7 linked regions of the Homo sapiens genome follow. The protein of the gene in region 6 purifies or fractionates together with the protein of the main gene of each other region. This does not show direct contact. Each region holds a gene or a part of one and is shown on either strand. Other genes may lie near its edges. The genes, in order: TOP3A, PDSS2, PRORP, SIRT5, NENF, THEM4 and PDSS1.

Region 1 (3,033 bases), on a different chromosome or scaffold from region 6:
TTAGGCTGGTCTCGAACTCCACCTCAGGTGATCCACCTGCCTTGGCCTCTCAAAGTGCTGGGATTACAGGCGTGAGCCACCGTGCCTGGCCCAGCCTCATTTCTTCAGATGAAGATGCCAACCCCGATGATATTTAGGAACCTGCCCAGGGTGACACAGCTTGGGCCAATGTCCGGGAACTGGGTGTCATGAGAAGTGGCACCTGGACATTGCATCAAGTTGAATGGTGTACGTGGAGGCACTTTGAATGGTTCCTCCTGCTCCAGTGCACAACAGAGCTTAAGTAGCTGAGAATGACCCAAAGGCCTAGTGGGAGCTTTGGAGTTGAGCAAATCTGGTTCCAAAGCTCAGCAGTATAACCTTGAACAAATGACTTAGCCTCTCTGCCTCAAGTTTGCTCAACAAGATGGTCCCTGCCTACATTCATAGGGTTCCTGTTTTAGAAAGGAGTTTAGTCTCAGACTATGATTCTTACACATGTGTCACTAGCCCGGCATGCACAGAAAGAAACCAGAGGTTTGGTAAAAACTGTGGGACTTGGAACTGGCTACCAGTGCTAATGGGGCCCAGAGATGGCCATTGCAGTGAGAGACCCACATTTGAAGTGAGATGCAGTCTGGCCTCTTGTCTCCCCACTTGGAAGGACATGGTATCTGACCTCCAGGCTGGCTGACTGACTGTCCTGGGTAAATGAGCAGCTGGTCTGGAAAGGCCTGTTGAGGGGACAGGAAGGGATCCAGAGCTGGACTTTCCTGCATGGAGGTGGGCCGCAGGTTGCCGGTCATAGGCTGCTTGTCTTTCCCACCCTACCACACAGGCCAGCTTGCTTGGGTTTCTGCCTCTGTAAAAAGGGCCGGCATGAAAGTCCACTTACCAAGTGAGTGTGGGACAATGTCTCCAAAGCTTAGGATTCTTGAGGGAGAGGTGTCAGGTAACATAAGGCAGCAGGCACATCGCACCTCAACCTTACAGAGTTGGACACAGTGTGAAGGGAGGCTGGCTGGTGGGGTGTACATGGCTGTATAAAAACTGATTCAGCCGGTCGGGCGCGGTGGCTCATGCCTGTAATCCCAGCACTTTGGGAGGCCGAGGCGGGTGGATCACGAGGTCAGGAGATCGAGACCATCCTGGCTAACACAGTGAAACCCCGTCTCTACTAAAAATACAAACAATTAGCCGGGCATGGTGGTCGGTCCCTGTAGTCCCAGCTACTCTCGGGAGGCTGAGACAGGACAATGGCGTGAACCCGGGAGGCGGAGCTTGCAGTGAGCCAAGATTGCACCACTGCATTCCAGCCTAGGCGACAGAGCCAGACTCCACCTCAAAAAAAAAAGGCCGGGCACGGTGGCTCACGCCTGTAATCCCAGCACTTCGGGAGGCCAAGGCGGGCGGATCACAAGGTTAGGAGATCGAGACCATCCTGGCTAACATGATGAAACCCGTCTCTACTAAAAATACAAAAAATAAAGTAGCCGGGCGTGGTGGCGGGTGCCTGTAGTCCCAGCTACTCGGGAGGCTGAGGCAGGAGAATGGCGTGAACCCGGGAGGTGGAGCTTGCAGTGAGTGGAGATCACGCCACTGCACTCCACACTCCAGCCTGGGTGACAGAGCGAAGACTCCATCTCAAAAAAAAAAAAAAAAAAAAAAAAAGTTGGTTCAGCCTTATCGTCTGCTGCTCTTTTTTTTTTTTTTTTTTTTTTTGAGACAGGGTCTTGCTCTGTTGCCCAGGCTGGAGTGCAGTGGTGTGATCACAGCTCACTGTAGCCTCCCAGGCTCAGGCATCCTCCCGAGTAGCTGTGACCACAGGCATACACCACACCTGGCTAATTTTTGCATTTTTTAAAGACAAGGTTTCACCATGTTGCCCAGGCTGATCTTGAACTCCTGGGCTCAAGCAATCCTCCTCCCTCAGCTTCCTAAAGTGCTGGGATTACAGGCATGAGCCACCGTGTTCAGGACTTGCCACTTCTGCATGTCAGTTCTAACCTCACCCCTCCCCTGACTCTCCCGACAGGGACTTCTGGAGCCCCGTCCTGGACAGGAGACAGAGGAAGAACCCTGGAGTCGGAAGCCAGAAGCAAAAGGCCCCGGGCCAGTTCCTCAGACATGGGGTCCACAGCAAAGAAACCCCGGAAATGCAGCCTTTGCCACCAGCCTGGACACACCCGTCCCTTTTGTCCTCAGAACAGATGAGCTCAGGGTAGGGTAGAGAACGCCACTTTCTCAGACCTGTCCCCTTTGTGTTTAGAAATGAGTTAACCAGGACCAAGTGGCCATTTAGTGTCCTGGAAACTTAGAGGACAGTGTTGGCCTTTGGAGTCGGGCCTTCTTGTGTTAAGGGGCACAAGGTCCAGATCACTCTGGAGCAGGCCAGCTCTGCTGGACAGTGACCCTCTTCCCAGGCCTCAGGAGTGACCATAGCCACTGCTGAAAAGTCACGCAGCTGCTCCCTCGGACCCCCCAAGGATGGTTGCTGTTAGCAGAGGATTGGTGCAGTCCCAGCTGAAGCCCACTGTGTGCCAAAGGAAGAAGCTCCCAGGGCTGCTTCCTTCACCTGCAGAAAGCCCCAAGTGAGCCACCAGCACTCATGGGGCAGTCCCTGTCCAGGCTGCCCAGGGCTTCTCATAGACGTCCTGAGAAGGACGGTGTAATGCAAGGAAATGGCTGTGGTAACACTGATCCTTCAGAAGAAGCTTCATTCCCTCTTAATCTAGTTAAGCCAGGACATCCAGAATTCATTGCTTTAATAAAGAACCCAGGCCGGGTGCAGTGGCTCATGCCTGTAATCCCAGCACTTTGGGAGGCTGTGGGGGGCGGATTGCCTGAGCTCAGGAGTTCGAGACCAGCCAGGGCAACATGGTGAAACCCTGTCTCTACTAAAATACAAAAAATTAGCCAGGTGTGGCGGTGTGCGCCTGTAGACCCGGCTACTCAGGAGGCTGAGGCAGGAGAATTGCTTGAACCCGGGAGGCGGAGGTTGCAGTTAGCTGAGATTGCGCCACTGGACGACAGAGCGAGACTCAGTCTCAAAAA
Region 2 (3,500 bases), on a different chromosome or scaffold from region 6:
AACATCTTCAGGACCTAGGGCTAGGTAAGCAGTTCTTAGACATGACACCAAAAAATTCATAAAAGAAAACAATAATTGGACTCCATAAAAGTTCAAAACTGGCCAGGCGTGGTGGCTCACGCCTGTAATCCCAGCATTTTGGGAGGCCGAGGCGGGCAGATCACAAGGTCAGGAGTTCGATACCAGCCTGACCAACATGGTGAAACCCCATCTCTACTAGAAATACAAAAATTAGCTGGGCGTGGTGATGTGCACCTGTAATCCCAGCTACTCAGGAGGCTGAGGCAGGAGAATCGCTTGAACTTGGGAGGCGGAGGTTGCAGTGAGCCGAGATTGCGCCACAGCAAGCCAGCCTGGGAGACAGAGTGAGACTCTGTCTCAAGAAAAAAAAAAAAGTTTGAAACTTAGCTCTGTGAAAGACCCTGTAAAGAGGGTGAAAAGTTTAGCCACAGACTGGGAGAAAATATTTGCAAATCACATATTCAAAGAAGGGCTTGTATCCAGGTTATGTAAAGAAATCTCTGAACTCAAGAGGTTGGGTGCGGTGGCTCATGCCTGTAATCCCAGAACTTTGGGAGGCCGAGGCAGGTGGATCACTTGAGGCTAGGAGTTTGAGGCCAGCCTGGCTAACATGGTGAAACCCTGTCTCTACTAAAAATACAAAAATTAGCCGGTGTGGTGGTGGGTGCCTGTAGTTCAAGCTACACCAGAGGCTTAGGCAGGAGAATCACTTGAATCTGGGAGGCAGAGGTTGCAGTGAGATCGCGGCACTGCACTCCAGCCTGGGCAACAGAGTGACACTCTGTTGCAAAAAAAAAAAGAACTCTCTAAACTCAAGAAAGCAAACAATACAATTAGAAAATAGGGGAAAAAGCTTGTGCGGTGGTGCATGCCTGTAATCCCAGCTACTAGGGAAACAGAGGCAGGAGGCTTCCTTGAACCCAAGAGTTTGACTTCAAGGCTGCAGTGAGCTATGATTGTACCACTGCACTCTAGCCTTGGCAACAGAGCAAGACTTTGTCACTTAAAAAACAAAAAAGAAGAAGAAAGAAAAGAAAATGGGCTAAAAGAAAAACCTATAAAGGTAGCAAGTAAGCATATGAAAAGATGTTCAACATTATTAGCCTTTTGGGAAATGCAAATTAAAATCACAATGGGATGTTGAGGTGATCGGGCCCAACACCAGGCCCTGAGGGCTACAAAGTCTGGCGGGGTCAAAGGAATGAGAAAAGACAAGTTAAGAGTTCATAAGGTGTGTCCAGAGGGCCAGCGCTAGATTGGAGGCTGCAAAGGCCCCGAGCTCTGGGAACCCGCCCTATTTATTGGTGATCAAACAAAGAAGCAGGTGGTGAGGACATGAGGGTAAACAGGTGAGGGCATGAGGAGGTGAGAGTAGAAAGGTAGTGGTGCATTAAGTGTAGCTGTGACGGTTTAGCACTTCCTTTGACCCATATAGAATATGCTCTGCTGCTTGAGATAATGGAGGGCATGTTTACAAGAAAGAAGCAAGGAACCAACAAGTCTGTGCACATTCCAGAGGCTACGAGGGGTTTATGCCCTGAGCCCTGGATTCCATCAAAGCCACAAGGGGTTTTATGCCCTGGGCTTAGATTTGTGGTGCGGCAGTGTAGCCTTCCACCCTTTGGCACAGAGCTTGGTGTTCCAAAGGCCACGAGGGGTTTCAGACCCTGGATCCCGGACATCTTCCAAGACTCTTTTACATTATGACAGACAAGCCAGTCCTGCCTCAGCTCTTCTACCAACAATGGGATACTACTATGTACCAATTAGAATGGCTAAAATAAAAAATATAATATGTAATTCTAGTAACGATGCAGATAAACTAGATTTCTCATGCATTGCTGATGGGAATGTAAAATGGTTCGGCCCCTCTGGAAAACAGCATAACAATTTCTTATAAAATTAAACATACGACTGGGCACAGTGGCTCACGCCTGTAATCCCAGCACTTTGGGAGGCTGAGGCAGGCAGATCACTTGAGTCCAGGATTTCAAGACCAGCCTGGGCAATGTGGCAAAATGCTGTCTCTACAAAATATATAAAAAATTAGTTGGGTGTGGTGGTGCACACCTGTGGTCCCAGCTACTTGGGAGGTTGAGGTAAGAGGATCACTTGAGCGCGGAAGTTGGAGGCTGCAGTGAGCCATGATCGTGCCATTGCACTTCAGCGTGGGTGACAGAGTCAGTCCCTGTCTCAATCAATCAGTTGATTGATCAATCAGTTTAAACATACACTTACCATGTAGCCCAGCAATCAGACTCCTGAGCATTTATTCCAGAGAAATAAAAACTTATGTCCATACCAAAACCTATACACAAATGTTTGTGGCAGTCTTATTTGTAATAGGCTGCCATAACCTATAGAATTATAGGTTGAAAATCCTACATATATGTATTTCTCCTTTGCAGTTAAGTTTCTTGTATTAATGCCATTTTCATTCCACAGCTTGGATAGGGCTGTGTGTTCTTTCTAGAGGAAAGATCCTTTCTTTAGAATGATGTTCCATAATTTCACCTTGATGGTTTTTGGAGTGGAGAATGAAGGCCTTCTTAACTTAATCCTATATCCTTTATTTTGGGATGATTTTGTGTGTTATTTCTTCAGTATCATGGTTCCCACCATTTTTCTCTCTCATGTTGGAATTTTGTAGTTGGTCATTGTGAATTGATTCCTCAACATTCTTCCCCCTACATTCATAGTTTTCCTTTCTTTAATTTATCCTCTACATATATACTGTTTGTTATACTGTTTTAATTCTGTCTTTAATTATTTCCCAACTGGAAACAACCCACATATCCTAGTGAGTGGTTGAACAAACTGTGGTCCATACATAACAACGAAATGCTACCCAACAATAAAAAGAAATGAACCACTGATACAACAACTTGGGTGAATCTCAGATGAATTATTCTGAGTGAAAAAAGTCAATCTCATTCATCAAAAAATTAAAAATAGAATTACCATATGACCCAACAATTCTGCTTCTGGGTGTGTTTCCAAAAGAATTGAAAGCAGTGTCTCAAAGAGATATTTGTATACCCATGTTCATAGCAGCAGTATTCACAGTAGCCAAGAGGTAGAAGCAACCCAGTTGTCCATTGATGGTTGATAGGATTAACAAAATGTGGTATATATTACCATGGAATATTATTCAGCCTTAAAAAACAAGGAGGGACCAGGCACAGTGGCTCATGCCTGTAATCCCAACACTTTGGGAAGCTGAGGTGGGAGGATCACTTGAGGCCAGGAGTTTGAGACCAGCTTGGGCAACACAGTGAGACCCCATCTCTATAAAAAAATAAATTAACTAGACATGGTGGCTCCTAAAAATAAGTTGGCTAGACAGCTGCTCTAGAGGCCAAAGTGGGAGGATCGTTTGAGCCCACGTGTTTGAGGTTGCACACGTGTCATAATATGGATGAACCTGGAGGACATTATGCTGAGTGAAATATGGAGGACATTATGCTAAGTGAAATAAG
Region 3 (2,786 bases), on a different chromosome or scaffold from region 6:
ACAATTTAGGAAAATCCAAGGAGGGGACGTTTTATCTTCTTACCTATTTACTGAATGCAACATTACTGCACACCAAGACAAAAGAGCTCTCCAGGAAAACATTGGATATATTGAGAGCATTAAAAGATACTGCAAAAGCTCTAATAAATTCAGTCTGCTTATTTTCCAAATTTCATAAACTACATACTTAGGAAACTGTGCTTTCAGTGAGCTAAACTTCTTTTTTTAAGTAACTATCATAGTTTTAAGAAAAACATTTTAAGAAGACAAAAAGTATTTATTAAGCCCATCTAAAAGGCTAATGCAAATTCCCAAAAAAGGAGCACATAGAGATAGAGGAGGAGGCCGAAGTGGTGGCTCATACCTGTTAATTCCAGCACTTTGGGAGGCCAAGACAGGAGGATCACTTTAGGCCCAGAGTTGGAGACCAACCTGGGCAACATAGCAAGACCCTGTCTCTTAAAAAAAAAAAAAAAAGACGGGAGAAGCTACAAGAAGAAAACTAGAACTTTAGAGCAGGAGTAACCTTAGAGCATGTAAAGTCCATTTTGGAGATGAGGAACAGACCCAGGAAGATGACCTGGCTTCCCTGAATCCCACGGCTAGTTAGTGCAGACATTTCAGCCATAACCCAGCTCTTCTAATTCCCAAATACTCTTTCTTCTACTGGCACATAGAGATGGGGGAGGAGTCAGGGCATGGTGGCCCACACCTACAGTTCCAGCACTTTGGGAGGCCAAATGGGAGAATTGCTTGAAGCCAGGAGTTGGAGACCAGCCTAGGCAACACAGGGAGACCCGTGTCGACAAAAAATTTAAAAATTAGCTGGGCATGGTAGCACATGCCTGTGGTCCCAGCTACTCAGAAGGCTGAGGTGGGAGGATCACTTGAGCCCCAGAGGTCAAGGCTACAGTGAGCTATGATCATGCTACTACACTCCAGCCTAGGTGACAGAGTGAGACCCTGTCTCAAAGGGAGGGAGGTAAGAATGAGAAGAAGGAACAGGGGTGTACCTCTTTTAAGGGCCCAAGTATCCTGAATGGCTCAGCAGTATAGAACATTGTGGTAGAGAAATTACATTTTAAAATAACTCTAATACTGTTTAGAAACAAAACCCTAACTTCTGCTTGAGATAAACTGAAGTGCATCTGTCCCTTGTCCAGGAGTGGGGAACCATTGTAGGGTTGCTCAGCATAAGTCATACTGCCACGGTGACCTTGAGGAGTGCAGGGATTCCCTGAAGGAAGCAGCTGGTACCAGACACTTAGGCTGCCCATTTGTGTTCTGATCATTTGAGTGAAAAAAAGGTACCTGTCAAGCAAGCTCCTGGACACCACAAGAAGGAGGAATTATTTTAAAAGCTGTACTCTTAAATTGTTAGTATCTTTAAAATCAGTTGTGAACAATGAAGGATTTGAAAGAGCATTGACTTTGCCACTTAAAAGTATTTCTAAAATACTTTGTGCTTCCCCCTTGCATTCTGAATTTATACACTTTTCCTCCTGCTGTTCTCAGACCCAGTGGAAAGAAAATCTCAAGGAAGAAGGCTGAGTTTATTCTCTCAGGGCTCTGTTGGGTCTACCTCATCTGAGGTGGCTTATTCTTCATAGGAAATTAATTTTTCTTCTCAAGTATGCACTTAAATATAATTACTGCTTCCTTGGTCCTCTAGCAGATTTCTCACTTTTATTTATTTTTTTTTTTGAGACAGAGTCTTGATCTTTTTTCATCTAGGCTGGAGTGCAATGGTTTGATCTCAGTTCACTGCAACCTCTGCCTCCTGGGTTCAAGCAATTCTCATGCCTCTGCCTCTCGGGCAGCTGGAATTACAGGCATGCGCCATGACGCCTGGCTAATTTTTGCATTTTTAGTAGAGACGGGTTTTCACCATGTTGCCCCGGTTGCTCTCAAACTCCTGACCTCAGGTGATCCACCCACCTCAGCCTCCCAAAGTGCTGGGATTACAGGTGTGAGTCACCCCGCACAGCCTGAAATGAGGCATCTCTATCTATAGTCCAGCAGCCCTACAGGAGGCAGGAGGGGAGCAAGAATAAGAAAGGAAATTTGTAAAAGGCACTTAGGAGTGAGCAGAAAGGAAATAGGACCAGCTTTTACCTGCCCAGTCCTGGCCAGTGACAAGCAGTCTGCTTGAGTCTGTGCTAAATAAACAAAGGAAGTTCCATTTAGAGCTCTACAGAGGGGAAGCCATAGAAATTAACAGGATGAAAATACAAGAGACAGGAACACAGATGAATAAATGTAATAAAATTTGAGAAATAATCTTTACTTTTATCATCTCCATTTATGCTTTTTCATGATGTCCTGACGTTCCCTCTCCCCAAGTTTAGTTTTTTGTTTTTGTGGGTTTTTTTGGCATTATTTGATCTGACGAGTGCTTCCAGAGGTTCTACTACATACACAACTTGCTTTTAACTGGTAATGGAAATAAACAGGAAGACAATTATCTAGTCACTGATGGCAGCTAAAAATTATTTTGCTACCAGAGTGCCCTCAGAAGTATACTCTTATCTAATGGATCGAGTTATTATGATAACTGTGGTAATTTGTTGTTATAAATAGCAGTAACATAGGAAGGTTTTGGTAACTTCTGACAAGAAATTTGATGTAGAGAGTTAATTTCGAGCACATTAAAATGACTGTCCCACTCATCTCTTCAGTGCTATTTAAAAGCCAGCCCAAGAAGCAAATACTTGAGAAATCAATAGTAGGGGCTTTAATTTTGAATATGATAGACATTAATTCATTTTAATGAGACCAGGTCAGAT
Region 4 (4,158 bases), on a different chromosome or scaffold from region 6:
ACAAAACGGTTTAAAAAACAATGAGCATTTTCAGCTGTCTACTGTTTAAGAAAATAATGAGCTCTCAGTTTTGCCCTCTGAGCGATTTCTCCAGGACTGCCCTGGTAACACTACTACTCAACAGTTTTGTGCTTTGCGCAGTTACTTGACCTCCCTGGGCCTCGGTTTCCCCACCCATAAAGTGGGGATAACAGTACCTATTTCATCAGGTGGTGGGGACGATTTAAAATGGTTAATAATGTGCAGTTCTTAAAAGTGTCTGGCTCAGAATAAGCACCATACACGTTAGGGGGAAAAACAGCAGCCGGATGTGAGGCCCTCCCCAATTTCGTTACTCCATAAACCTCTGAGTTGCTGGTAACACCTGCAGGAATGAGAAGGGCCTCAACATGGGCTGAATTTCCAGCCAAACTGTGGGAAGTGGCTGAGATTTTAGGTAGGCAAAAAATGTTAATGTAACATTTTTGGCCCCCAAGTTCTCAGACCACTTACTTCCCTTTCTAGTCCACTGACATGCCCGCAAGCAATTCCATTCTGCCAAGTGGTGCTGGTGGCAAGCCGGAATCCAAGAAAAGGAAAGACTCCGATTTTAAGGGAACGGGGACATGCGGAGCCACGTGAGTCACTGGGTCCCAGAGCCACGGAAGGCTCTCAGCTCAGCAGTCAGAGTGCACTCGTCATTGCGTTCGAGGTTAGGTGGCCTAGCCTGGGAACCAACTCACCGTCATTTGAAATCGTTTTAGGGAAAATGACCCTAACATTTAAAATCCTCTCTCCTGAAGTTGTGTGGTCCAGCCGTTTGCTGAAGGAGGAAGCAAAGCCGGTAGTAACTCACTACATATTTGGGCAGTGGAATGAACCCTGGAAGCTGACAAAGTCGAAGCAAGTCACTGCGCCGCCCCCCACCCCCACCCCCACCCCAAATAAAAACAGAGAGACAATCCTTCAATTATAAAGAAGACCACGGCGCCCGGGTCTCCGGCAGGGGCCGCTGCAGCCGAGCAGAACGCTGAGCCGCTCCGCCCCACGGCCTCCTCTCCAGCCGGCGCGCCCGCCTCCCGCAGGTGCGTCTCTGCCTGCGCCGGGCCGGGGTCTCCGCGGCCTCTCCCGCTCGGGCTCCGGCTTCGAGGTCCCGACCAAGCACTGCTCTCGCGGGACTGCGCGCACCGCCCAGGGCCTGCCGCGGGCTCGCGAGCGGAGGTGGCACCGGTCCGCGGTGCGCATGCGCGGCCCGGCCTCTGCCCTGCGGTCCCGGGCTGGTGACTGGCTAGCGGTTGGAGGAAGGGATGTGGGGGATGGTGGGTGGGTACAGAGAGCTGGGAGGGAGGCACCCCGGGGGGCGGGGCGTGGGAGACTGTATTCGGGGGCGCGAGCTGCCCCAGGTGAGCCGTGGCTCAGGTCCGGAGCGCGGTCGGGACACAGCGCCTCTAGGAGAAAGCCTGGAAGGCGCTCCGGGGGTACCCAGAGCTCTTAGCGGGCCGGCAGCATGTGCGGGGCCCAAGGTCTTCCGGGCTCTGCGTGGGGGTCGCTGCGGCTGGAGACCAGGGAGGGGGATGGAAACGGGGTTGGAAAGTAATCCCACCCGAGCAGGTGGGCATGGGAGGCCGCTGTGCTGGGGAGCCCCGCGAGGGCTCCGAACAGAGCCTCCCTTTTCAGAAAGGTCACCCTGGTCATTGCAGCTGCCAGGGTGACCGAGGAAGGTGGCCGGGGTGGAGGCAGTGGGCGTGGAGAGGGGTCGGATTCCGGACGTAGTTTGAAGGTGGAGCCGTCAGGTTCTGCTGAGCAGCTTGGCTATGGGGCGTGCGAGAAGGGAAGGCTCAGGGCCTAGTCCCTGGGCACGAGTAGTAGCCGGGAGGATGAAGTCCCAGTGCTTCGGGGGGAGGCGGCTTGAGGACGGCTCTGGAGCTCAGGCTTGCCCGCGTGGAGTGGAAGCTGCCTCTTGGACACAGGGCGGGGAGGCCGCATGCAGTCTGGCGCGCTGGGAGGATGGGAGATCCAGAGGGGCAGGGCTGGAGGGGTAGGAGGAAAACCTGAAGAGGGTGGCGCCCGGAAGCCCGGGAAAGTGATGAACTGGGTCAGAGGCCGGGTATCAACAAATAGGAGGGTGGAGACGACCTTGAGGAAAGCAGGTGATGGAACGGGAGGGAATGGGGCCCCCTAGTGGAGACACCTGGGAGTGATGTATTGCATTTATTTAGCTCTTAGGCGTTCAAAAATTATTTATTGGGAGCCTGTACAACTTTTTGCAGTTCATTGCATTATCCTTAGCATGTATTTTGTTTTATATAAATATATATTTATATAATTATTTTTATTGACAAATTTATATATTTATAGCGTACAGTGTAATGTTTTGATATATGTATACATTGTAGAAAGATTAAATCAAGCTAATTGACATATCCATCACCTCACCTACTTATTTTTTGTGGTGAAAATCTACTCTCCTGGAAATATACAATACATCATCAACTATGGTCACCATGCTGTGCAGTAGATCACTAAAACTTACTCCTCTTACCTAACTAAAACTTTGTATCCTTTGACCAACATCCCTCCCTTCCACATCAGCCCTCTGCCAGGCCCCTGGTAACCATCATTCTACTCTGCTTCTATGAGTTCAACTTTTTTAGACCCCAAGTATATAAGTAAGATCATGTGCTGTTTGTCCTTCTGTGCCTGGCTTATTTTACTTGGCCTCATGTCCTCCAGGTTCATCCATGTTGTTGCAAATGACAGAATTGCCTTCTGTTTTAAGACTGTATAGTATTCCATTGTATATATGTGCCACATTTTCTTTATCCGGTCCTCAGTTGATGGATACTTAGTTGCTTCTATATCTTGGTTATTGTGAATAATGCTGAAAACAACACAGGAATGCAGCTATCTCTTCAACATACTGATTTCAATTCCTTTGTATATATACCCAGAAGTAGGATTTCTGGGTCATGTGGTAATTCTATTTTTAGATTTTGAGGAGCCTCCATACTGTTTTCCAAAATGGCTGTACTAATTTACATTCCACCAACAGTGTACCAGGGTTCCCTTTTCTCCACATTCTGGACAAAACTTGTTGTCTTTGATCTTTTTTATAATAGCCATTCTAACAAGCGTGAGGTGGTAGCTCAGTGTGATTTAATTTGCATTTCCCTGGTGGTTAGCAAAGTTGAGCGTTTTTCATGTATTTGTTGACCATTCATATGTCTTCTTTTGAGGAATACCTGTTCAGGTTCTTTGTCCATTTTTTAACCGGGTTATTCGTTTTGTTTTGTTTTGCTGTTGAGTTTTTTGAGTTTCTTATATATTTTAGATAAGAGCCCCTTATCAGATGCATGGTTTGCAAATATTTTCTCCCAGTCTGTGGGTTGTCTCTTTACTCTGTTAATTATTTTCTTTGCTGTGCAGAGGCTTTTTAGTTTGATGCAATCCCATGTGTCTATTTTTGCTTTTGTTGCTTTTGGGGTCCTATCCAAGAAATCATTGCCCAGACTAATATGGAGTTTTCACCTATGTTATCTTCTATTAGTTTTACAGTTTCAGGTGTTATGTTTGAGACTTTAATCTATTTTGAGTTGATTTTTGTATATGGTGTGAGATAAGGACTCAATTTTGTTATCCAGCATGTGGATATTCAGTTTTCCTGATGCCATTTATTAAAGAGACTTTCCTTTTCCCATTGTGTGTTCTTAGCACCTTTGTCAAAAATCAATTGACTGTAAATACTTGGGCTTATTTCTGGGCTTTCTATTCCTGTTCCATTGGTTGATGTGCCGATTTTTATGCCAGTGCCATGCAGTTTTGATTACAATGGCCCTATAATATATTTTGAGATTAGGGAGTGTGATGCCTTTGGCTTTGTTCCTTTCACTCAAGACTGCTTTGGCTATTTAGGGTCTTTTGCAATTCCATATGAACTTTAGGATTGTTTTTTCTATTTCTGTGAAAAATGATATTGGAATTTTGATAGAGATTACATTGAATCTGTAGATTGCTTTGGGTAGTATGGACACTTTAACAACCATTAATTTTTCTAATCCGCGAACATGGGATACCTTTTTACTTATTTGTGTCTCTTTTCTCACATCAGTGTTTTATGGTTTTCAGTGTACAGGTCTTATATCTTTGGTTAAATTTACCTGAAGTGGTTTTTTCTTTAAT
Region 5 (3,500 bases), about 61 Mb from region 6:
CAGACGTGTGCCACCATGCTTGGCTAATTTTTTTTTTTTTTGTATTTTTAGTAGAGATGGGGTTTCTCCATGTTGGTCAGGCTGGTCTTGAACTCCCAACGTGAGGTGATCTACCCGCCTCGGCCTCCCAAAGTGCTGGGATTACAGGCGTGAGCCACTGCACCCAGCAATCTCCTTTTTTTAACAGTAAAATTTTTATCTCCTCCTTAAACTACTTACTTGAAGGTGTAAGTGCGAAGAGGAAGTCATATTATAGGGGAAGAAAAGAATGTTTAGCATTTTTGAGGCCTCAGAGTGACATAGATACCTCATATGCCATGCAGAGGAATGGTCTTATCAGTAAACAGAGCGTGCTGTGGTGGTGAGTTCTGACCCAGTGTAGATGAACATCCATGGATAGCACAACCCCCAGGCACAGACTCTCAGGCCTGGGAAATGACAACTGAGAAGGTGGAGGGTGGGTGGAAGGCTTGGGAGTATAAATGCAGACACAGGAATAGAAGTGACACAGAAACAGCCAGGCATGGTGGCTCCCAGCACTTTGGGAGGCTGAGGTGGGCAGATGACTTGAGGTCAGGAGTTTGAGACCAGCCTGGCCAACATGGTGAAAACCTGTCTCTACTAAAAATACAAAAATTAGCCGGGTGTGGTGGCAGGTGCCTGTAATCCCAGCTACTGGGGAGGCTGAGGCAGAATTGCTTGAACCCGGGAGGCGGAGGTTGCAGTGAGCCAAGATCACACTACTGCACTCCAGCTTTGATGACAGAGCAAGACTCTGTCTCCAAAAAAAAAAAAAAAAAAATACAGACACACACACGCAAAACAAAACAAAATCAGCCACTGCACTCCAGCCTGGGTGACAGAGTGAGACTTTGTCTCAAAAACTAAACTAAAATAAAATAATCTTGTAAGGCAGTTATTACTATACCCATTTTGTAGGTGAAGAAACTGAGGCTTAGAGTTTACATAACCTGTCAATGGTTTCTCTGCTGGTAAATAAAAAGTCAGGATTCAGACTCATACCTGTCTGATTCTAAGCCTTTGCCCTTCCTAGGGCAATTCTTCCTTATTGAAAACTTGAATACCAATCTCTGGCCTGCAATCTGTAGACAGTGAAACCCTGCTATCATAACAGGTGTGTGACAAGGCAAAAGCTACCGGTGAACATGTGCAAGCAATATCTCTACCTATCAGGGCAATTTTGACAGGAGTTGAAGAAAACAAGCGCCAAAGAAAGGCACTCTGGAACACACTACCTTTTTTTCCTCTATTTTCAATTTTGTTCAACACACTCACTTTATAACCTGTTATCTACATAAGAGGTCCTCAAAATCACCTCTTCTGTACAACCCTTACTAGAATTACTGGGAGAATGGAGTTCTAAAGAAGCACCAAGGAGATGCTGTCCAGATTTTTTTTCTTTTTTAAAATAGAGACAAGGTCTCACTACGTTGCCCAGGCTGGTCTCAAACTCCTGGGCTTAAGCGATCTTTCCAGCTCGGCCTCCCAAACTGCTGGGACTACAGGTGTGAGCCACCACACCCCGCCCAGATTTTCAGCAAGCATTCGAAGAGGACTAATGTATACCAAAGATTTTTCTATTCCCATATGTGAATGATTTAGGGAGCCTTGGATCACTCTGAGGCCCTACAATGCCTAAAAGGAAAGAACTGGCTCTTGGTGCAGTAGATCCAGAACACAGTGTGGCTCTGTGAAAGACACTGACAGCCAGGACACCCATGCTTCACGGATTTCCCATCTGAAGCTGCCACTGGAGAAACTACGCAAATCCCTGTGTGGGTGTCTGAGCTCTCTCACCTTGAACCACACAGTGGGATGTGTGACTGATAGAGGCGGGTCTGCCTTGGCTCTCATCCAAGAAAGAAGGTTTTTTTATATCTAGTAGAAGCAAGTCACTCATTGCTAGATGTTTCAGAAAGCCTTGTTACACAGGTCCACAATCCCACAGCAGAAACTCTTGGGGGTCAGACATGTTTTCAATATGAAAATATGTCAGATTTTAGAAAGGTGTTATGGGGAACATACCATATATTATGCAATACCTCTAGGGAGGTCCAAGGCAACACCCATAATCAAGTATGTTAGTATTTCTCCAGTGAAACATGAACATTCACAGTAAATGGGATAAAGACTAACGTAGACTCATAGCAGCTCCAACAAGGTTCTGTCATCAAGTGATTTCAGATCAAGCTGGGTTTTTCTGTCAAATGACTTGTGAAAAACAAAAATGTCTAGGTTTCAGAGTTTATTAGATTTCTGTAGTGCATGAAAGGACCGTGGACCTGTTATAATGCCTCTTGCTTGTATCTTTAATAAGGTAATAAAAAATAATAGTAGCTAACATTTATTAAGACTTACGGTGCTAAGCCCTATTCCAGGCCTACGCTAAGCCTGTGCACACCACCATCTCATTTAATGCAGGCATTCACAAAACACCTGCTTAGAGTAGGAACTCTTTTTTTTTTTTTTTTTTTGGTAGAGGTGAGGTCTTGTTATGTTGCCTAGGCTGGTCTCAAACTCCTGGCTTCAAGCAATCCTCCTGCCTCGACCTCCCAAAGTGAGTGCTGGGATTACAGGTGTGAGCCACCACACTCAGCCAAGTAGGAACTCTTATTATAACCATTGTGATGATTTATTTTATGTGTCAATTTGCACAGGTTACTGTACCCAGTTATTCAATCAAATACTCACCTAGATATTGCTGTGCATCTACAATCAATTGGCTTTATATAAGGAAATAATCCCAGATAATCTGGGTGGGCCTAATCTCATAATCGAAAGACCTTAACAAGGCTGGGTACAGTGGCTTACGCCTGTAATCCCAGTACTTTGGAAGGCTGAGACGGGTGGATCACGAGGTCAGGAGTCCAAGACTAGCCTGGCCAAGATGGTGAAACCCTGTCTCTACTAAAAATACCAAAAGTAGCTGGGCATGGTGGTGGGCGCCTGTAATCCCAGCTACTCGGGAGGCTGAGGTAGAGAACTGCTTGAACATGGGAGGCGGAGGTTGCAGTGAGCTGAGATCACACCACTGCACTCCAGCCTGGGAAACAGAGCAAGACTCCGTCTCAAAAAAAAAAAAAAAAAAAAAGACCCATGGGCTACAGCATCTGCTCCTGCCTGAGGGCTTCCAGCCTGCCCCTTCTGATAGCCTGCTCTATGTATTTCCAATTTGCCCAGCCAGCCCCCGCTATCGTGTAAACCAATCCTTATGATAAACCATTTATCTATCTATATATAGTTGACCCTTGAACAACACAGGTTTGAACTGCATGGGTCCACTTATATGTGGGTTTTCTTCCACCTCTGCCACCCCTGAGATAGCAACACCAACCACTCCTCTTCCTTCTCAGGATGCAGACCTTTATAATGATCCACTTTCACTTAATAGTAAATATATTTTCTCTTCTTTATGATTTTCTTAGTAACACTTTCTTTTGTCTAGCTTACATTACTGTAAGAATTCAGTATATAATACA
Region 6 (3,500 bases):
CACATTTTTCCTCTTCATTTATAAAACAGAATAATTCTTCCCTCGAGATATATCAGAGATTCTGCAAAGAAACTTAAGAACTCTATAATTTTTCTTGATTAGTTTTATTTTTGTTTTATTCATTCCTTCAGCAAATACTAAAGTATCTACCATGAGGAAACTGAGGCACAGAAAGGTAAAGTGCCTTGCTCAAAGTTGCACAGCTTTAAATTGTGGAACCAGAATTTGAACCCAGGCACTAAATTTCAACCATTTAATTAAGAAGTTGTCAACTTCTGGATGGTCTCTAAAGCTGAGAGACTGCATGAGATTACCAATGGAGTGTGGAGAAGAGAGGAGTACTAAGGACTGAGACTTGAGGGCACCCCAACATGAAGGGTTTGAGGATGGGGAAGAGCCAGCCCAAGAAACTGAAAAGGAGGCACCAGTGAAGTGGAGAATGTGGTGTCCTAGAAGTTATGTTCAAACAGAAAGGAGTCAACAGCTGTGCCAAAAGCTGAGAGGTTAGCGGACTCAGCAACATGAAGGTCACTGGTACCTTTGGCAAGAGCTGTTTTGAGGGAGTGGGTTCAAGATAGGCTGGGCACAGTGGCTCATGCCTGTAATCCCCGCACTTTGGGAGGCCAAGGTGGGGCAGATCACTTGAATTTAGGAGTTCGAGACCAGCCCGGCCAACATTGTGAAACCCTGTCTCTATTAAAAATATAAAAATAAGCTGGGTGTGGTGGCATGCACCTGTAATCCCAGCTACTTGAGAGGTTGAGGTGGGAGAATCACTTGAACCCGGGAGGAGGAGGTTGCAGTGAGCCGAGGTCACGCCACTGCATTCCAGCCTGAGTGACTCAGTGAGACTCATTCTCAAAACCAAAAACAAAAAAAACAAAAAAACAACAAAACAAAAAAACCCAAAACAAAAGAGAGAGAGAGAGAGAGACTGGGAAGAGAGAAATGCAGTTGTGGCATGTTTATATGCTGATACGAAACATCTAGCAGAGATGGATGTCCTTCAGTAGGCCAAAGAAAATGGAATGCAGCGCACAAATGGAAGGCTTGGTCTCCCTAAGAGTGTGGATGGTTCACTCACAGCAGGAAGAAGCAGAACATCAGGCACAGATGCAGGGGGGAGGATATGTGAGGCAATGGGAGACTGGGAGTTCTCTTCTGACTGCTTTTATTTTCTCTTAGTGAGATAGGAAGCGAGACCAACTGAGGGTGAGAAGGGAAAGTATTAGAGGCATAAGAAGAAAGAAAAAGGCAGAAAATACTCATCCAGTAAGGGAGGAGAGTGAATAAACTAGGGAAACATGAAGTATGGTTGTTGGGCAATATTGAGAGCCTTCTTTTTCTCTTTTTTTTTTTGTAGGGGGGGAGACAGTCTCACTCTGTTGCCCAGGATGGAGTGCAGTGGCGCGATCTCAGCTCACTGCAACCTCTGCCTCCTGGATTCAAATAATTCTTCTGCCTCAGCCTCCCAAGTAGCTGGAATTACAGGTCCCCGCCACGAGGCCCAACTAATTTTTTTTGTATTTTTAGTAGAGACGAGGTTTCACCATGTTGGCCAGGCTGGTCTTAAACCCCTGACCTCAAGTGATCCGCCCGCTTCAGTCTCCCAAAGTGCTGGGATTATAGGCATGAGCCACGGTGCCTGGCCCAAGGGCCTTCTTAAAAGTCAGTTAAAAAAAACCAACCACCACCTAAAGATGTGTTTGGATGATTAAAAGATAATGAGTAACTCAGAAATATCTGTGAATGATTCAAATATACTATAATGATGGATATCTGTCATTACACAGTTGTTAAAACCCACGGAAAACATAATACGAAGAGTGAACCCTAAAACAAACTATGGACCTTAATTAAGAATAATATATTAATATTGGCTCATCAATTGTAACAAATACACCACAGTAATGTGAGATGTTAATAATAGGAGAAATTAGGGGTGGGGAGGGGATAAAGGGTATATGGGAACTCTCTGTACTTTAGGCTAATTTTTCTATAAAATTATAATGCTAAAAAAGTATATTAGTAAAAAAACACAGAAGGATAGGAATTGCTATGTGTGTGTTTTGGGTGTTGGGTGGGTTGCCCTGGGGATTTAGATACTGGGAGATGTGGGTATAACCTGAGTGTTCTAAGCTTCTTAGGGTGATATAACCAGATATGGGATAAAGGGTGAAATGAGATTAGATGACAGCCTCAAGACGGAGAGGTGATGAGGTTGTAGGAGGGTGGAAGCTCTCTGGGGCCCTTTCTTCACTCTTGCTAATGGTGATAAGAATGCCAGGGTGGGAGCAGTCTTATTCTTGACAATAGGCTTTATGCTCTCCAATCTGCAAAATTTATTGTGATTTCTGGTCTATAAAATTGGTGACTATAGAACCATAATCCTGCATTATATTCTTTCTTTTTTTCAGGTAGTAACTAGTACTTCAATCTGTTCTTAGCTTTATATTTGATGCTCAGATATATTAATGGGAAAGTGGCTGTTTCTACCAAGAAAATGGGTTTTGAAGTCTTGAATCCATTCAGTAGGTGTACGTTTATATGAAGGCAAACGTTTCCAGGAGCCGTCTTCACATTTCTTCATAAACTGGTCAAAGAGCAGTCTTAGGTCCTTGTTCCAGCTGGGGTTGGGGACAGAACAGTCCTTAAGAATGACTTCCTCAGAAGAAAATGACCTCTAAAAGACAGAAGAAAAAGAAAAGTAAGTAATGGGAGGTGCATTCTATTTCATAACATATTCTCCCAATTTCTAAGATTATCTTGCTGCTTTTCTTCTCCCCATAAGCTTGTCACTTCAAAATGGAAGGGAATTTCAGGGATCATCTGGTCCAACCTCCTTGGGAAAATGAGAGACTGAGAGAGGGAAAATGATTTGCTCAACATCACCCAGCGAGCTATTGACAGAGCCAGGATTATGCTCAGGTCTGCTGATTCCATTCTTTTTTTCCAGACTTTAATCAAGCACAGGTAAGCCCAGCACACTGGAGATGGAGGTTAAGAACAGGCATTATCTTCCATGTTGAAAGTGCTTCCAGTGGCTATGCACAGGAAGTTAGGGGATAAGGGAGAAGTACTCATCTAGGATTAGGGGTTCAGGAAGGGGTTCTTTGACTTGAATATTGATTAGATAAGCAGAAATTAGCCAGCTGGAAAAAGTATTACAGGAAAAAAAAAAAAAACACTGGAATATAGTTTGGATGTGTGTTCCCGCTCAAATCTCATATTGAAATGTAATCCCCAAAGTTGGAGGTGGGCCCTGGTGGGAGGTGAATGGATCATGGGGGTGAATTTCTCATGGACGGTTTAGCACCATCCTCCTCGGTACTGTCCTCATGATAGTGAGTTCTCATGAGATCTGGTTGTTTAAAAGTGTATAGTACCTTGTGCCTTGCACTCTTGCTCTTGCTGTGTCCATGTGAAGTGCCTGCTCCTGCTTTGCCTTCTGCCATGACTGTAAGTTTTCTTGCTTCCTTTTTTTTTTTTTTTTTTTTTTG
Region 7 (3,500 bases), on a different chromosome or scaffold from region 6:
ACAGATATATAAGGAAGAGAGAGAGGAGGGGGCCCACGGAACCCCAGGGAATGGCAAAATTAAAGGAAGTGAGCTGGAGGTGATGAACCGAAGAAAAGCCTCAGGATAAGGAGGGGGAACAAAGTGCAGAGTGAAGGGAACCATGTTTCAAGGAGGGGTTACAGTCAATAGTGCCCAATGGTCAGAAAACCAGGAAGTGTCCGTTACAGTAGATAGCTAGTCAGGCATGAGCAGGGCAGGAGAGGGCTCCCCGACCCACAACAGGAAGGCGACCATCACGTGATGGTCAAGCAGTTGTTAACTGTGTCGCTAAAATACTAATTGGTCACAGCTGGTGCCAAGGGACGGCAGTCTCTCAATAGATACAAAAACCTGAAACTGGTGATCAGCTTCCCAATAAGATCTCGGGAGTTGGGTGAGTCGGCTCAACCATGCACACTAAGAGGCAAAATGGCAGAGCTTAATTGGTGTATGTCCTTCTAGGAAAACTGGGACTGGTATGGGAAGAATGCCTCACGTGAGCATGCGCAAAACTCCGGTAAACACACTGAGCATGCTCCCCTCCCCAACACTGGCGGGCCACTGCGCATGCGGGCAGCCCACCCCAAGGGAAGAATCCGGGGAGACGGGATGCAAGTCCCTGGAAGTATGCCAACATCTAAAACCCAAATTCCAAGGTCAAACCACACACTTTCTCTCAGGTCACCAGCTTGGCCCTCTTACAAGTGTACTTTACTTCCTTCCCTTCCTACTCTACACTTAATAATAAACTTTCTCTCCTGCTCTAAAACTTGCCTCCGTCTCTCCTTCTGCCTTAGGCCCCTCAGTCGAATTCTTTCTTCTGAGGAGGCAAGAATTGAGGTTGCTGCAGACCTGTACAAATTTGCTGCTGGTAACACATCCATTGGATTTAGCACAGGGAAGCTATCAGTGACCCAAGCAAAACCAGCTTCAGAGGAGAGGCTGGAAAGGGGGCCCCAGTGCAATAGTGGAGGGAACATGAAGGCACTGGAGGAAGGCAGAGGGCAGGGGATACTGTGAGGGAAGGGAGGGAGTGAAGCACTGGGTCAGTGGATGGGCCTTTTAAAAATGCAGGTGAAGAAACTGAACACCCAATGGATATGGAAGACCATGCCAATGAAAGTTTGCAGACAGAGGGAGAGGCCATGTCTGGGGGAGTTCCTAAGAAACTAGGGAGGTTGGCTAAGGGACTGCCCCTAGAGAGGGAAGGGACATGACTTCCACGGGTGGGAGGAGAGCAGGCAATCGCCAGAGAAGGCGCAGGCAAGCTGGCCAATTGCGACAGAGCAGGAGCTGAAGGAGTTCTTCCTCCACAGCCCCTACTGTCTGTGAAACAGGAAGTGGTGTCCTCTCAAAGTGCTAGGATTATAGGTGTGATCCACCGTGCCCAGCCAATTTTTTTCTAAAGACAGAAAAAATGTCTTGCTCTCTCACTCAGGCTGGAGTGCAATGGCGGGATCATGGCTCACTGCAGCCTCAAACTCCTGGGCTTAAGCAGTCCTCTTGCTTTGGCCTCCTAAATTGGTGGGATTACAGGCACGAGCCACGGTGCCCAACCACGTGAGGTTGGGAACTACTGAAAGTTTTCAGGAAAAAGAGTTGAATGAAGAAAGCCATATTTGGGGCAGACTGGCAATGACATTCAGAATTAGATAAGGAAGAGACAGCTGGAGTCACTGGGAGGTGGTGGGTTTTAAGAGGAAAGGTGGGATAACTCATTGGACAAGCATGAGCTACCTGGACCATTTTTTTCCTTCAGGTTCCCAACCCTGCCATAACCTCTTTCTGGACATAAATACATATTGCATTCTTCATATTGCCTGGCACTGGGTCATATGTATTCTTCTCAAGAAACATTTGAAACTTGACCATACGTCAATCAAGATTGCAAACTGCATTGTACAGATCTGAAAACCTGCACTGTTTTTTTGTAATCCCAGCACTTTGGGAGGCCAAGGTGGGTAGGTCACCTGAGGTCAGGAGTTCAAGACCAGCCTGGCCAACATAGCAAAACCCCGTCTTCACTAAAAATACAAAAATTACCCAGGTGTGATGGCGCATGCCTATAATCTCAGCTACTCAGGAGGCTGAGGCAGGAGAATTGCATGAACCTGGGAGGCAAGGGTTGCAGTGAGCTTAGATTGCACCGCTGCACTCAAGCCTGGGCAACAGAGTGAGACTCCAGCTCAAAAAATAATAATAATTATAAGAATAAAAAATAAAATAAAATTTTAGTAAGTTTTGGTAAGCTAAAACATTACATCACAGCAGAATAAAAAACTCACCTTTCTAATGTCCTCATACAGACCTTTCAAGTCTCTCCAACCGAGTTTGAAAGGATCGGTGTATTTTTCACCACTGTGTGTTTTACTGTCTGGGGTTGTGTGATGAAACCTGGGACATGCAAAAATGCACATGACTTCATTTTCAAGTAAGTTTTATATACATATATATTTAGTAGACTCAGATACGGAAAATTCAGCCCAAATATTTGCTAGAAATTAATCATGAATCTGAAAAGGTCATTATAATTTGGAAAAACATACAGAATTCTATTCTTGCTAAATGACAGATCAATAGATCACTTTTATAAATAGGGCCTTGAGAACCCACAAAATCAAAGAAAAACTAAACTATGTTCATTGTGCTCTGGGTTGAGCTCAAACTTTATTATATTCCTGTTTTTTGAATAGGCAGAGATCTACAATTTAGAATAGAAATTTACAGGCAATATAATTAATAATTTTAGGCCGGGTGCTTATGTCTGCAATCCCAGCACTTTGGGAACCTGAGGGTGGGAGGATAGCTTGAGGCCAGCAGTTCAAGACCAGCCTGGGCAACACAGTGAGCTCCCCATCGCTACAAAAAAAATTTTTTAAACAACAATAAATTTAAAAATGGATAATTTTAGTAGTTGCAGTATGGACTGTAAACTTACCGTGATATACGACATACATTTGGACAGGCAGATGTTAAATGCTTCACAAGATTAATATAGGGTATCTATAAAATAAAAATGTCAAGAAACTTGTAAGAATATTCCTGAAAAACTGTAACATTGGATGATAAAACCCCCATAATTATAATCTTTATCTTCTAATCACCCATTTACAGGTAGATTGCAAACTTTAGAGGAAGAATAATTTTAAAGTTTCCTTTTGTTATTACAAAATACTTGTCATTGCAGAAAACATAAATAAGAAAAAAGGAGAAAATAAAAACCATCTTCAGTCCATCCCTTCCCCCAAAGAAAGCCATTTCCATATTCATATCTATCTTTCCAGACCTGAAAATTAGTTTTAAAACAATTTCCTTCCATTTAACTAAGATTGGTCAGAGGAAAAAAGATTTCAATAGCAAGGAAGGAATTTATATTTATACAAACACTGTCTATTTTAAGTTCGTGTTCCTCAACATCCTTTGGAAATGGGAGAACAGAGTTTGAAAGCACACAAACCAGGGTGTTAAAAGTAGTTATT

Evidence for each region.
Region 1: the proteins of THEM4 (region 6) and TOP3A purify together in Homo sapiens (affinity purification with mass spectrometry; 2 studies listed by BioGRID and IntAct, with this or other methods). This does not show direct contact.
Region 2: the proteins of THEM4 (region 6) and PDSS2 purify together in Homo sapiens (affinity purification with mass spectrometry; 2 studies listed by BioGRID and IntAct, with this or other methods). This does not show direct contact.
Region 3: the proteins of THEM4 (region 6) and PRORP purify together in Homo sapiens (affinity purification with mass spectrometry; 2 studies listed by BioGRID and IntAct, with this or other methods). This does not show direct contact.
Region 4: the proteins of THEM4 (region 6) and SIRT5 purify together in Homo sapiens (affinity purification with mass spectrometry; 2 studies listed by BioGRID and IntAct, with this or other methods). This does not show direct contact.
Region 5: the proteins of THEM4 (region 6) and NENF fractionate together in Homo sapiens (co-fractionation; one large-scale study listed by BioGRID). This does not show direct contact.
Region 7: the proteins of THEM4 (region 6) and PDSS1 purify together in Homo sapiens (affinity purification with mass spectrometry; 2 studies listed by BioGRID and IntAct, with this or other methods). This does not show direct contact.

The regions. Positions count from the first base shown.
Region 1 is NC_000017.11:18,273,962-18,276,994, reverse strand, and holds part of TOP3A (DNA topoisomerase 3-alpha), read left to right. Parts: intron 1-2,014; coding exon 2,015-2,193; 3' UTR 2,194-3,033. UniProt on the Homo sapiens protein: Releases the supercoiling and torsional tension of DNA introduced during the DNA replication and transcription by transiently cleaving and rejoining one strand of the DNA duplex.
Region 2 is NC_000006.12:107,449,565-107,453,064, reverse strand, and holds part of PDSS2 (all trans-polyprenyl-diphosphate synthase PDSS2), read left to right. Parts: intron 1-3,500. UniProt on the Homo sapiens protein: Heterotetrameric enzyme that catalyzes the condensation of farnesyl diphosphate (FPP), which acts as a primer, and isopentenyl diphosphate (IPP) to produce prenyl diphosphates of varying chain lengths and participates in the determination of the side chain of ubiquinone.
Region 3 is NC_000014.9:35,275,337-35,278,122, forward strand, and holds the end of PRORP (mitochondrial ribonuclease P catalytic subunit isoform 1 precursor), read left to right. Parts: 3' UTR 1-2,286; downstream 2,287-2,786.
Region 4 is NC_000006.12:13,573,243-13,577,400, forward strand, and holds the start of SIRT5 (NAD-dependent protein deacylase sirtuin-5, mitochondrial), read left to right. Parts: upstream 1-1,358; 5' UTR 1,359-1,502; exon of another isoform or gene 1,503-2,129; intron 2,130-4,158. UniProt on the Homo sapiens protein: NAD-dependent lysine demalonylase, desuccinylase and deglutarylase that specifically removes malonyl, succinyl and glutaryl groups on target proteins.
Region 5 is NC_000001.11:212,435,920-212,439,419, reverse strand, and holds part of NENF (neudesin precursor), read right to left. Parts: intron 1-3,500. UniProt on the Homo sapiens protein: Acts as a neurotrophic factor in postnatal mature neurons enhancing neuronal survival. Promotes cell proliferation and neurogenesis in undifferentiated neural progenitor cells at the embryonic stage and inhibits differentiation of astrocytes.
Region 6 is NC_000001.11:151,892,512-151,896,011, forward strand, and holds part of THEM4 (acyl-coenzyme A thioesterase THEM4), read right to left. Parts: intron 2,684-3,500; coding exon 2,497-2,683; intron 1-2,496. UniProt on the Homo sapiens protein: Has acyl-CoA thioesterase activity towards medium and long-chain (C14 to C18) fatty acyl-CoA substrates, and probably plays a role in mitochondrial fatty acid metabolism. Plays a role in the apoptotic process, possibly via its regulation of AKT1 activity.
Region 7 is NC_000010.11:26,704,201-26,707,700, reverse strand, and holds part of PDSS1 (all trans-polyprenyl-diphosphate synthase PDSS1), read right to left. Parts: intron 3,025-3,500; coding exon 2,960-3,024; intron 2,416-2,959; coding exon 2,307-2,415; intron 502-2,306; exon of another isoform or gene 373-501; intron 1-372. UniProt on the Homo sapiens protein: Heterotetrameric enzyme that catalyzes the condensation of farnesyl diphosphate (FPP), which acts as a primer, and isopentenyl diphosphate (IPP) to produce prenyl diphosphates of varying chain lengths and participates in the determination of the side chain of ubiquinone.